Linked DNA regions of Homo sapiens. The protein of the gene in region 2 interacts with the protein of the main gene of each other region in a pairwise test. Each region holds a gene or a part of one and is shown on either strand. Other genes may lie near its edges.

What was found. Proteins that work in one complex are often made in the same cells at the same time.
Region 1: the proteins of HNRNPF (region 2) and AKIRIN2 interact in binary tests that used the Homo sapiens proteins (3 or more experiments, as listed by UniProt).

Annotation. Positions count from the first base shown.
Region 1 is NC_000006.12:87,692,208-87,699,234, reverse strand, and holds part of AKIRIN2 (akirin-2), read left to right. Parts: intron 1-7,027. UniProt on the Homo sapiens protein: Molecular adapter that acts as a bridge between a variety of multiprotein complexes, and which is involved in embryonic development, immunity, myogenesis and brain development.
Region 2 is NC_000010.11:43,385,172-43,392,198, reverse strand, and holds the end of HNRNPF (heterogeneous nuclear ribonucleoprotein F), read left to right. Parts: intron 1-4,262; 5' UTR 4,263-4,314; coding exon 4,315-5,562; 3' UTR 5,563-6,581; downstream 6,582-7,027.

The DNA of each region.
Region 1 (7,027 bases), on a different chromosome or scaffold from region 2:
GCTTCCCAGTTTTCATGTTAGTAAACTTGGAAATAATTTTCTCATGCACCTGATTTTTAGCTTCCTATTTTAACACCGATTATTCTTAAACTTTATGGGAGTAAATACCCATCTGTCATTAACTAAAATGAGTAGTTAGGTTTGGAAGTAGACAGTGGCTTACCAAATTGAGATTGGCAAACTTGTGGGAACTCTTTGTTTTCCTTTCACATCTGTGAGTTCAAATATAATACAAATTAATGTAGAACTAGAGTACTAAAGTGACTTTTTTTCAGAGCATGTATACACTTTATTTTATCATTGTTCTCCTCTAGATACTTTCAGTTTCTGATGGCATAGCTGAAGTCATGTTGTGGCTTTATTAGTTTCAGGAACTTGGATGTCTGTTTTAAACCTTAGCTATCATTTTAGTCATCCCAGGAAGTTTGACTTGACTATTCTTATTTAAATATTTTTCAAACTGTTGCAACTTAATACTAGGAAAAAGGAAGGACTAGCTGAGCTGACGGAAGTTAAGCTTGCTTTCTTAACCGCAAGGCTTAGAGCCTTTATTATGCTAATTGGCATTATGAATTTTTTAGGGACTCCTTAACACACAGCTATCCCAAACCTGTTTTTTAGGACACCTAAGTGTTACTAATTCAGAAATGCTGTTCAGGGTCTAGGGATGGTTGACAAAGTATAGCCATATTTTTGTGTAGCCTGAGAGCTAAGAATGTTCTTTACATTTTTTAAATGGTTGGAAAAGAATCAAAAGAATTATTTTGTGACACGTGAGAATTATGTGAAATTCAAATTTCAGTGTCCATAAATAAAATTTTATTGGAACACAGCTGTGCTCATTCTTTTTTTTTTTTTTTTAAGTATTGTTCATTGCAGGTGACGATGGCAGAGTTTAATAGTTGTCACACACAGTATATTGCCCCGAAAACTCCATATTTGCTCTCTGGTGTTTACAGAAAAAGTTTGCTTACCCTCATGTGGGGTGTCAGCAGTGAGGTTTATAATACCCCTGGGTATGGAAAAGGAAAAGTGATCAGTGGAAGTAAGGGGAGGGGGAGCAGAAGCATTGAATATCGTTGGTGAAATGAATGCCTCTAGTAGCTGCATCAATACTTACCCTGGTAAGTTAGTTGAAAACCAAAGTATGCTTTACTATTGGTTTTTGAAACATCTCATAATACTACCATTTAGCCAAAAGATTGTCATGACATTCCCAAGAAAGAATTTTAATAAAACCAAAATATTGCAACATTATAAGAGACCGTCAATCAAATCCAGCACATTGTTTTCATTATGTAGTGAATGAATGGTCTGAAGATACCCTTCTGTGAATGTTAATGTATTTGTGAGTTTGTTAGGCACATTAATTCACATTGTTTATGGCTTGGTACCATTAATCTGCCTTAGGAATTGAATTCTGTGAAGAGTTAAGTTCCTTTGTAAGAACTCATTGTACTTGCTGGAAACTTGCCATTAAAAATGGAAACTGCAGCTTGTGAATGGGGAAGGGTTTACAGGAACATAGATTGTTCACCAGACATTGATGCATGCCTGCAAACGGAGACACCAGCTGGCTTCAATGAAATATAAATGGTTCTAGGCGAACAAATGAGACGTCTGTTGGAGGAGGCAGCATCTCTCTTCAGATGTCATTTACATTGAGCCAGAAGTATTTTTTAATATTTTGTGGTTATTTAGACAGCTGTTAAGTTGCTCCTAGTTTCTCACTGGATTTGGCAAATAAATGTTTTTAATGGTCTTTGTACTTTGAGTCTTAAACCTGATATTCTATTTAGGACTGTGTATGTAGCTGCAGTTACTGCATATTTCTGTGATTTATGCATTTAAGAATCCTGTAAGTTTATGGCCATTAAAAACTGCAGTTGTATTCATTACTAATATAGAGCTTTTTTTTTTTTTTTTTCTTGAGACAAAGTCTTACTCAGGCTGGAGTGCAGTGGCATGATCTCAACTCATTGCAACCTCCATCTCCTGGGTTCAAGCGATTCTCGAGCCTCAGCCTCTGGAGTAGCTGGGATTACAGGCGTGCGCCACCACACCTGGCTGATTTTGTTTTGTATTTTTAGTAGAGATGGGGTTTCACCATGTTGGCATGGCTGGTCTTGAACTCCTGACTTCAGGTGGTCCAACTGCCTTGGCCTCACACAGTGCTGGGATTATAGGTGTGAGCCTGTGCCGCCGGCTTTTTTTTTGTTCGTTTGTTTTGAGACGGAGTCTCACTCTGTCGCCTAGGCTAGAGTGCAGTGGCGCAATCTCAGCTCACTGCAACCTCCACCTCCTAGTTTCAAGAGATTCTCCTGCCTCAGCCTCCTGAGTAGCCGGGATTACAGGCGCACACCACCACGCCCGGCTAATTTTTGTATTTTTAGAAGAGATGGGGTTTCACCATGTTGGTCAGGTTGGTCTTGAACTCCTCACCTCATGATCCACCTGCCTCAGCCTCCCAAAGTGCTGGGATTACAGGCGTGAGCCACCGCGCCTGGCCTCCCTGGCTTTTTTTTTTTTTTTTTTGGATGGAGTCTCACTCTGTCCCCCAGGCTGGAGTGCAGTGGCACAATCTCGGCTCACTGCAAGCTCTGCCTCCCGGGTTCACGCCATTCTCCTGCCTCAGCCTACCAAGTAGTTGGGACTACAGGTGCCCGCCACCATGCCTGGCTAATATTTTGTATTTTTAGTAGAGATGGGGTTTCACCGTATTAGCCAGGATGGTCTCGATCTTCTGGCCTCATGATCTGCCCGTCTCAGCCTCCCAAAGTGCTGGGATTACAGACGTGAGCCACTGCGCCCAGCTCCCGGCTTTTTTATTAAGGTAGGAAAATAAAGCCTAACTTGAGCACAGCAACACATAGGCTAAACATGGCTAGATTAGAGGTTAGCCCCTCTTTAGGTGTGGAAGGTACTATTCACTATGGTTGCCACGGAGACATAACCTGAGATGTAAAGGAGAATAATATAAATTTCTTCAGTTTTTTAATGGCTTTATTGGAAAAAGAATGTAGTACATACTAATCGGGTCTTTGTTTTGTTTTTGTTTTCTGAGACAGTCTTGCTCTGTCCCAGGCTGGAGTGCAGCAGCACAATCTCGGCTCACTGCAATCTGCCTCCTGGGCTCAAATGATCCCCCTGCCTCAGCCTCTCAAGTACCTGGAGATACAGGCATGTGCCACCATGCCCAGCTAATTTTTGTATTTTTTTGTAGAGATGGGGTTTCACCATGTTGCCCAGGCTGGTTTCAAACTCCTGGGGCTCAAGCAATCTGCCCGCTTCAGCCTCCCAAAGTGCTGGGATTACAGATTTGAGCCACTGTGCCCGGCAGGTTTTTTCTGCTAAGTGTTTTGATAGATCTAGAAAGACAGTGATAGAAAGCTTTCGTTTTGAAAGATTGAGAATAAAAGCTTCAGTGGAAGTGCCCAGTTGTGAGTATCTTTCCTATTTGAAAAGAGATTTTTCTCTTTATAAAAGAAGAATGTGAAGTAATAGCATGGGTTAAGTTTGGGCCTCTTGAATAGTTGGTTCATGAAACTAGATAATGGTATTAGGAGTGGGAGTAGGTATTTTCAAGTACCTATCACTGAATTAGTTAACCAGCAATTTGTAGTCTCTGTAGTCCTTGTGTTAACCCTATGCCTAGCACTGTTGATTCAAAGAACGTTCTCTATATATGTGAAACTACAGGGAATTTCTTGCCTTTGAGAGCACCGCCTGCTTTTAAAAAGGTATGAGAGAAAATATTTATTTAAGCCTATACAAAACTATCAGGCATCTTAAGTCTTGACATTTCCCAAGGTTCTTAGAGTTGCTATGGTTGGAAAAAAATGTAATTTCAGTTTTACCCTGTAATTCTGTACCAAATTTTCTTTTTAGACTGTTCTATGACATTGTCATAATGTGTAACATTTTTGACAAAAAATGTGACTCCAACGAGTCGTAATAAATACTGCAATTAGTTTAAGACTTTGAATAATACTTTTCTGAGGAACTTTAAGTATATTTCTCTCTTCATTTTTCTGGATAATGATGAGAACATGGATTACATGAATTACAATATTTTAAGTAGCCCCATGTATAAGAATTTTTCTATTATCAGGTATTTGCTCATTGGAAGAAACATTTTAAAGGGTTTCACAGGATTTTTAGAAGAAAATACTTTTTAATAAGAAGTTGTGATTTATTTCCAAAGAAATTGAATTATTTGTTATAGCAAGTTTCTCACATGAGATGATATTGTATCTATATTAAGCAGGGAATCCCTGCAGGTAATTTAAAATTCTAGTGGATGTTAGTTTTTCAGCTTTGATATTTATTTTGGGCCTATTAATCAGAATTTTACAGTATAATAGATTTTGTAATATTTTTGGTGATGAGGATTTTACAGTATAACAATTTTTGTAATATTTCTTGTGATGGTAGGCTTTGTTGGGTGGTAAACTTTCTAGCACTAAGAAAGCAGCTCATAATAATATACTTTTAGTTTGTCTTGGGGTGTAGCTTTTTTTCCCTTTAGTTTTTATCTGTCACAAGTGTCACAGGCAGATCATCTTGAGATGTACTAGTGGCTATTGTGATTTTATTAACATTGTAATCTTTCCATTAAATACAACTTCTGGATTTGACTTTTTAGGTCTTTTGATGTACCTGGATTTCTTAACATTATTAAAACATTTAAATTCTTCTTCTAGAAGTCACTTGTTCGAACCCTTATGAACCTCATTTGAGTTCTAGATACTGCACTGGCTAGGCAAAGAAGAGTAAGAGTCTCTCTTGAGAGACTGATGATAGAGCAGCCACTGTTGATACTTTATTAGCTAGCACTTTATGCTTTATCAGTATACCTATTTTCATTTCTTATTAATATTTTTCCACATTAGTATTCATTTCCCCTTTGATAGCCTAAATATTGAAATTGGTTTACTGATTAAATCACTTTTGAAACAGTTTTTTTCCTTAAAGTGTTAAGGCTTGTTTACTAAGTTTCTGAAATTGTGTCAGTATATGATGTGTATTCTCACTTTGGTTAGCATTCATTTTCATTTCTGTTAATGTTAATTCTTGTAAAACTCCCTCAAAAAAATCAAACTAGTTGGAATGGTTTGAGAGAGGGACTTGGATTTTTCTTTTGTTTATTTTTGTTGAACTGATGAGTAAATGAAGAGTAGAATGTACAGTGAAGTTTGAAGAAAGCCAATTTTTCAAACATTACTGTCCCCCTGAACTGTGCCTTTTAATTATGATAGGAGATTGTCTTGTTCCTCCTACTAAAATATGATTATCTAGAAGAACTTTTCTAAGTGGTATACTTGATTTAAAGTATAGAAGATTTTAGTTGCTATGATAGAGAGGGGGACTTGATGTTCACTGTGACAATCTTTCATAGCCCAGGGTAAAATAGTGCATTATCAGAGCCTGGCATTGTAATTAGTTGTACATGTGTGGAAATACTGACCTATCAACTTGGAATAATTCTTCACTTTTTTTTTTTTTTTTTTGAGACAGAGTCACAGTCTGTCGCCCAGGCTGGAGTGCAGTGGCGCAATCTCAGCTCACTGCAACCTCTGCCTCCTGGGGTCAAGCGATTCTCCTGCCTTAGCCTCCTGAGTAACTGGGATTACAGGTGCGCACTGCCACACCTGGCTAATTGTATTTTTAGTAGAGACAGGGTTTCACCATGTTGGTCAGGCTGATCTTGAACTCCTGACCTCGTGATCCGCCCGTCTGGGCCTGCCACAGTGCTGGGATTACAGGCGTGAGCCACCGCGCCCGGCCATTTCTTAACTTTTAAAACACCAATAAAGCATTCTGGCTAGATATAAATACCTGTCCTAAGATGAGGCATTTTAGAGTCTTGAAGCATCCCTTATATACATTTCTGGATGTAACATGAAGAGGTGTTACAATTTTTTTTTATAGCTAGTCATTGCTGTTTCAGGGGTCTCATTAGATGAGAGTTATGCTTCATTTTGGTTATTGCCTTTTTCTTTTTTTGAGATGGAGTCTCACTCTGTCGCCCAGGTTGGAGTGCAGTGGCGCAGTCTCCGCTCACTGCAACCTCTGCCTTCTGGGTTCAAGTGATTCTCCTGCCTCAGCCTCCCGAGTAGCTGGGACCACAGGTGCCCACCATCATACCCGGCTACTTTTTTGTATTTTTAGTAGAGATGAGGTTTCACCATGTTAGCCAGGATGGTCTTGATCTCCTGACCTCGTTGATCCGACCACCACAGCCTCCCAAAGTGCTGGGATTACAGGCGTGAGCCACTGCGCCCGACCAGTTATTGCCTTCTTGACAATCCCATTTTTTGAAGTTTCAGTGTATGAAAGTATAAATTATGCATAGTACTGATGTCTATTCTAACTCCTGTTTTCTAAAAATTAACTTTCCTCGTTGTGATATTTATTTATTTTTGAGACAAGAGTCTTACTCTGTCACCCAGGCTGGAGTGCAGTGGCACGATCTCGGCTCACTGCAATCTGCCTCCTGGGTTCAAGCGATTCTCCTGCCTTAGCCTTCTGAGTAGCGGGGATTACAGGCGTGCGCCGCCACACCCAGCTAATTTTTGTATTTTTAGTAGAGACAGGGTTTTGCCATGTTGGCCAAGCTGGTCTTGAACTCCTGACCTCAGGTGATCTGCCCACCTCTGTCTCCCAAAGTGCTGGGATTACAGGCATGAGCCACCGCGCCCAGCCCATTGTGATTTATTTTAACATTAAATGCTAATAGAATTTTGATTAAGTGTAGTAATGTACTACTGGAGAGGGTAGTAGATGTTAAGAACTTGGGCCCTGAGGTCAAACCTGGCTCTGCCATGTTCAAGCCGTGTGACATTGCAGAAGACACTGAAGCAGAGCCTCATTTTTCTCATCTCAGGAAATGTGCACATGATGATAGTAGCATATGCCTCTTAGGGTTGTGAGAATTAAGAGCATTTACTGGCCAAGTGATGGAAATGGTCTCAAGAAGGCAACCTCAAATGGGACTTTTACTCACCAGCAAGTTTGCCTTTCAGTG
Region 2 (7,027 bases):
CTCCTGACCTCAAATGATCTGCCTGCCTTGGCCACCCAAAGTGCTGGGATTACAGGCGTGAGCCACTGCGCTCAACCTAGGTGTCCACCACTATGCTCGGCTAATTTTTGTATTTTTGGTAGAGGCGGGATTTCACCATGTTGGTCAGGCTGGTCTTGAACTCCTGGCTCCGGTTATCCACCCTCCTTGACCTCCTAAAGTGCTGGGATTACAGGCGGTGAGCCACCACACGTGGCCTTGATCATGCAGTTTTAATGGAGGGGAGTGGAAGTGACAGTAGAGGCCTTTTGACAAGATTTTGCTGAACAAATCAACAAGTAGCTAGAGGCAAAGTTGGCACAGGGGAGGTATGACATGATTGGGTAGAACTGAGCATGTTTAATTACCAAGTAGACAGGGCTCAGTGGAGAAAGGGGAAAAGGAAAAAAAGAAGAAAGCATGGCTCCGGGGTATGTGAGGTTGGACCCAGAGCAGAGCTGTTGTTCACGATGTCCGCTGTAAGGGGCCCACTACGTGCTTACAAACTCCTGGACTCTGACTTGACTTCACAAAGTCCACTTCCAAGAGTAATGTCAACCAGCTGGAGAGGAGGTGAGAGTCTGTAAGGCTGCCCCAGACATCTGAAGGGCTTTGGACAAGCAGGGTGCTGGGGTAGGACAGTGGGCGATATTGAGGGCCCGCTTACTCTATGGCTGTTCACTCTGATTTTCTTTTTTTTTTCTTGTGTGGTGGGTTTTTTTTTGGAGTTAGTCTCGCTCCGTCACCCGGGCTGGAGTACAATGGTGCGATCTCCACTCACTGAAAACTCCGCTTCCTGGGTTCAGGTGATTCTCTTGCCTCAGCCTCCGTAGTGGCTGGGACTACAGGCGCCCACCACCACGTCCAGGTAATTTTTTTTTTTTTTTTGAGACAGAGTCTTGCACTGTCGCCCAGGCTGGAGTGCAGTGGTGCGATCTTGGCTTACTGCAACCTCTGCCTCCCAGGTTCAAGCGATGCTCCTGCCTCAGCCTCCCAAGTAGCTGGGACTACAGGTGCCCACCATCACGCCCGGCTAGTTTTTTGTATTTTTAGTCGAGACAGAGGTTTTGTCTATTGGAACTCATGATCTCAAGTGGTCCCACCCACCTCGGCCTCCCAAAGTGCTAGGATTATAGGTGGGAGCCACTGTGCCTGGCCTCACCCTGATTTCTACAGTATTTCACAACTTGGGGGCAGCATTAGCCACCAGAGAACATTTGGGAATGTCTGGAGACATTCGGTTGTCAGAACTGGAGGTGGAGGGTGCTACTGGCATCTAGTGGGCAGAGACCAGGGATGCAGCTAAACATCCTACAGTGCCTGGGCCTGCCTCCACAACACAAAGAACTGTCTGGTCCAAAATGTCAGTAGTCCTGAGGCTGAGAAATTGTAGCTTAGAGGCACCGTTTCGCCTGGCTGTGTGCAGCTGAGCCACTCAGTACATCCATGGAGTAGTCAGATATTTGTTTGGAATCTTCCAGAGCTCTGGTTTTACTGGGCGCGTACAGTTAAGAAGTTCATTGAATGAATTCCATGTATTGTGAGGAAGGAATGTAAAATGATACTTGCTCTAAGCTGGATTATGAAGAATGAGGAGAGAAAGAGGCTGTGTGGATAAGGAAGCCAAGGTCTCTACAAAGGAGGGGGATAGCAGTTGTGGTGGAGGGAGTAGGATGTGATTAGGTGGGGTTTCCTGCAGGGAATGGTGAAATCATTGGAGGTAGGAGTCCAGGAGAAAATGGTTAGTGGATTATGGCTTCATCTCCCCTACCCGGAACGATGGCTGGACCTAAGGCTAGGAACAGAACTCGAGGGAGGCCTTCAGATACTTTTCATGAGTGAGGAGCAAGACCAGGGTATGGTCAAAGACAAAAGGACAGGCGGTGCCTAGCCTGACCCAGTGTTGGGAATGGAATTGCATAAGAAGCCCCCACCTGTAATTGAGCTGTCCCAGACCCATTATCCCAAGAGACACAATACAAACTTGCCCTGACTCTCCAAGGAGGAGCTTCTGAACTGTTAGCACAGAATTCCCTCCGTGGACAGGAGAGGAAGAATCTGCTGTGACCTTGCTCTGCCAGATCAGCATGTTGCAGTGGCCATATGCAGGGGATTTAGATAAGGCCCTGGGGAGGCGGAGACCATTACTTTCTAAGGTGGAGGCTAAACCCCAGGGTTTGTTGCAGACCCAAAGCACAGTTTGAGAATTGGGGATAGGATTATTTATGCCCAATCATTTGCCGTTCAGGATTATTTTATAAAAGTTGATGGAGTTTATGTACATAGTCAATAATTTGAGGTGGGCAATGAGCAATCCAGGTTAGGCTCCCCTTGACTCTCTTCCCAGAGGCTTCCATGTTCCACTCTCATTAGCAAGGGTGACATCTTTTAGTTAGGCTGTATACTTTGAAAGCCCTTGCATTCCAAATCACAGTTCGTGAGTAAATGCCGAGTGTTTGGTCTTGGTGATGTGTTCAGGATATCACATACTGTTCTGTTTCATTTGTGCCATTATGCTTGTTATTGGGAGAGGAGACACATCTTGTTATCTTTATAATCTGGTGTAGACACAGGTAAATTTGAAAGATTTACACAATTATCCTTTTAGACGTTGTCAATTTGAAATGATGAAGCACTGTATGATAATATGTCATTATCTGCAATGGCTACATCAAACTTTAAAATTACTAATTTTCCCTGAAGCTAGTGCAGTTGAGCATTTATTTAGTATGAATTTGCTTTTCCTTTTCTTAAATTACACTTACCTTTACTTTTTGTCTGTTTTTTAAATTGTGGGGTTTTCTTATGGAGCTTTTTTCCCCACATGATGAGCCCATATTTCTTGAAAAGGCCACCAGCTATATCTATTATGCTTGATGTAAAATGACACTTTGAAACATTCGATTTCCAGCTGTGCATGGTGGCTCACGCCAGTAATTCCAGCACTTTGGGCAGCTGAGGTGGGCGGATCACCTGAGGTCAGGAGTTCAAGACCAACCTCGCCAACATGGTGAAATCCCGTATCTCCTAAAAGTATAAAAAATTAGCCGTGCGTGGCGGCTGGTGCATGTAATCCCAGCTACTCAGGAGGCTGAGACAGGAGAATTTCGTGAACCCAGGAGGCGGAGGTTGCAGTGAGCCGAGACAGCACCACTGCACTCCAGCCTGGGCGACAGTGAGACTCTTGTCTCAAAAAAAAAAAAAAAAAAAAAAATTCCATATACTCCTATGCTCTTTTTGAGCGTCACCCTTGACAGTGTTCATATAAAAATACGTCTTTGGCCCCATGATACTGCAGTGTTTTTCTTGCTTGTGACTATGTTATAGACCCTGCTGTCTAGGTCAGCTGCTCCTCTTTCTCAGAAGACTGCCTTCCAGTGTGTGGTTGGCCTTACTCTGAGTTTGGACTTCAGGTGCCATGTACCACCCTGGTGGGAAGGGCATTTCTCAGCCCTCTTGCGATTGCCCTTTCTTCCCGATGCCCTCTTCCAGATCTTCAGCACAAGGCAGCAATTCTGCTATATTTTATGTGAACCTGTGAATCATCTGATCTGGTTTCTCCATTTATTTGCAGTGCACATAACTAAGTCTGCTGGTGAATTTGTCTGCTTGTCTGTATATGTCATCAGTTTGGCCTCATACTTGACTGGTATTTAGTTTGAATTGACAATTTAGGAGCAAAATCATAACTCCATAGACAGTGGAAGCCATTGCTGTCTTGTATCCTGGCAACATTACTGCTGATGAGAACACTAGAAAATCTTACCCTATGTTGTGGTTTAAAAACAGCCTGCTATGTTCCCATCCCTTATTTTTACTCATGAAAGTAAAAGTATCCTACCATAGACAAGCAGATTTACTAAATTTACTATTTTACCAAATGTAAGGCGTATAGTTTAGGAGGAACAACTCAGGAGCTCTTATAGGTGAACTGCCACATATTATCATGACAAATATGTGGAATAAATATAACAAGGAAATGCCCTTGCTCTAAACTGACTGAAACTTACATTTCTCTGTGTTCAAGGCACCACATTCACATGCATCGTCCTGTCTTGTAAACTCCTGATTTGTTTTTCAAACTGCCTGTGACTGATAATGTAATTTTTTGAGAGACCTGGAGTTAACTCTTAGCTCTCAATTGTATTTGGTATATTTCTTAATGTCTTGCTACCTCTCTCGTCTGTAAAATGGGGAAAATTTCTGTTGCATACTAAATAAATTTTTCTTTTTTTTTTTTCCAGCCACAAAAAAGCCACACCCAAGATCACCTGACACCCACCCTGACAAGTGTCCATGATGCTGGGCCCTGAGGGAGGTGAAGGCTTTGTGGTCAAGCTCCGTGGCCTGCCCTGGTCCTGCTCTGTTGAGGACGTGCAGAACTTCCTCTCTGACTGCACGATTCATGATGGGGCCGCAGGTGTCCATTTCATCTACACTAGAGAGGGCAGGCAGAGTGGTGAGGCTTTTGTTGAACTTGGATCAGAAGATGATGTAAAAATGGCCCTGAAAAAAGACAGGGAAAGCATGGGACACCGGTACATTGAGGTGTTCAAGTCCCACAGAACCGAGATGGATTGGGTGTTGAAGCACAGTGGTCCCAACAGTGCCGACAGCGCCAACGATGGCTTCGTGCGGCTTCGAGGACTCCCATTTGGATGCACAAAGGAAGAAATTGTTCAGTTCTTCTCAGGGTTGGAAATTGTGCCAAACGGGATCACATTGCCTGTGGACCCCGAAGGCAAGATTACAGGGGAAGCGTTCGTGCAGTTTGCCTCGCAGGAGTTAGCTGAGAAGGCTCTAGGGAAACACAAGGAGAGGATAGGGCACAGGTACATTGAGGTGTTTAAGAGCAGCCAGGAGGAAGTTAGGTCATACTCAGATCCCCCTCTGAAGTTCATGTCCGTGCAGCGGCCAGGGCCCTATGACCGGCCCGGGACTGCCAGGAGGTACATTGGCATCGTGAAGCAGGCAGGCCTGGAAAGGATGAGGCCTGGTGCCTACAGCACAGGCTACGGGGGCTACGAGGAGTACAGTGGCCTCAGTGATGGCTACGGCTTCACCACCGACCTGTTCGGGAGAGACCTCAGCTACTGTCTCTCCGGAATGTATGACCACAGATACGGCGACAGTGAGTTCACAGTGCAGAGCACCACAGGCCACTGTGTCCACATGAGGGGCCTGCCGTACAAAGCGACCGAGAACGACATTTACAACTTCTTCTCTCCTCTCAACCCTGTGAGAGTCCATATTGAGATTGGCCCAGATGGAAGAGTGACGGGTGAAGCAGATGTTGAGTTTGCTACTCATGAAGAAGCTGTGGCAGCTATGTCCAAAGACAGGGCCAATATGCAGCACAGATATATAGAACTCTTCTTGAATTCAACAACAGGGGCCAGCAATGGGGCGTATAGCAGCCAGGTGATGCAAGGCATGGGGGTGTCTGCTGCCCAGGCCACTTACAGTGGCCTGGAGAGCCAGTCAGTGAGTGGCTGTTACGGGGCCGGCTACAGTGGGCAGAACAGCATGGGTGGCTATGACTAGTTTTGTTAGGAACATTTGAGTTACTTCAATCATTTTCACAGGCAGCCAACAAGCAATTAAGAGCAGTTATAATAGAGGAAGCTGGGGGACCCATTTTGCACCATGAGTTTGTGAAAAATCTGGATTAAAAAATTACCTCTTCAGTGTTTTCTCATGCAAAATTTTCTTCTAGCATGTGATAATGAGTAAACTAAAACTATTTTCAGCTTTTCTCAATTAACATTTTGGTAGTATACTTCAGAGTGATGTTATCTAAGTTTAAGTAGTTTAAGTATGTTAAATGTGGATCTTTTACACCACATCACAGTGAACACACTGGGGAGACGTGCTTTTTTGGAAAACTCAAAGGTGCTAGCTCCCTGATTCAAAGAAATATTTCTCATGTTTGTTCATTCTAGTTTATATTTTCATTTAAAATCCTTTAGGTTAAGTTTAAGCTTTTTAAAAGTTAGTTTTGAGAATTGAGACACAATACTAATACTGTAGGAATTGGTGAGGCCTTGACTTAAAACTTTCTTTGTACTGTGATTTCCTTTTGGGTGTATTTTGCTAAGTGAAACTTGTTAAATTTTTTGTTAACTAAATTTTTTTCTTAAAATAAAGACTTTTTCACAATGACTGGCACAGATTACTCAGCAAAAGATAGCAAAACGGGTGGTTGAAGATAATTCATTTTAATCGTAATGTATTTTAGTGTGAATTTAAAAATTTCATACATCAAATCTATGATCTCCCTTATATTCTTATGATGAGGCTAAATAAAAGTCTAATAAAAATGTTAAATATGTGAATGGTGGAAATGGTGACTAGCAGCACACATTCTGGGAAGCATCAAATAGACACACGGCCCCAGCCACCTGCAACTTATGTGCACTGTTGTAAACCATTCAGAATTTTCCTGCTAGGCCCTTGATGCTGGAGTCACATCTGTTGATAGCTGGAGAACTTTAGTTTCAAGTACTACATTGTGAAAGCAATTATTTTGTTTCTAGTTTTTATAAAATGCTGATTTAAACTTTTTTTTTTGGTCACGCTCCTGATTTCTGTAGGGCGCATTTGTTAATTAGGTTATGACAGGATACACATTATCAAGCTTGAGACCCATTTTCAAATTGCTATCTACCTTGGCAACAGCAATGTTGAAATTCAGGCAGCTCTATATATAGCATACAGTATTACTATCATTTTAAACCTTATGCTAAATACAAACCATCAGGACTTTAAAATGTGGAGTTTATTTAAAACCATTCTGTGCAAAAATGCTATCTACCATTGGGAATTCTTCAACTTTATTTTCCCACTTCACTAGCTGTATAATGTAACCTATATGTTATGATTTTACCAATATTAAGGGTCTTCATTAGTATCTTAAAGAGTAAATAAATGCTCTTGGTAAAACCCCTGAGAGCTGCATTAAAAATTAGGTCTGTGAAGTCTTCAGCCTTTTCTAGCCTCATTGGGCTTC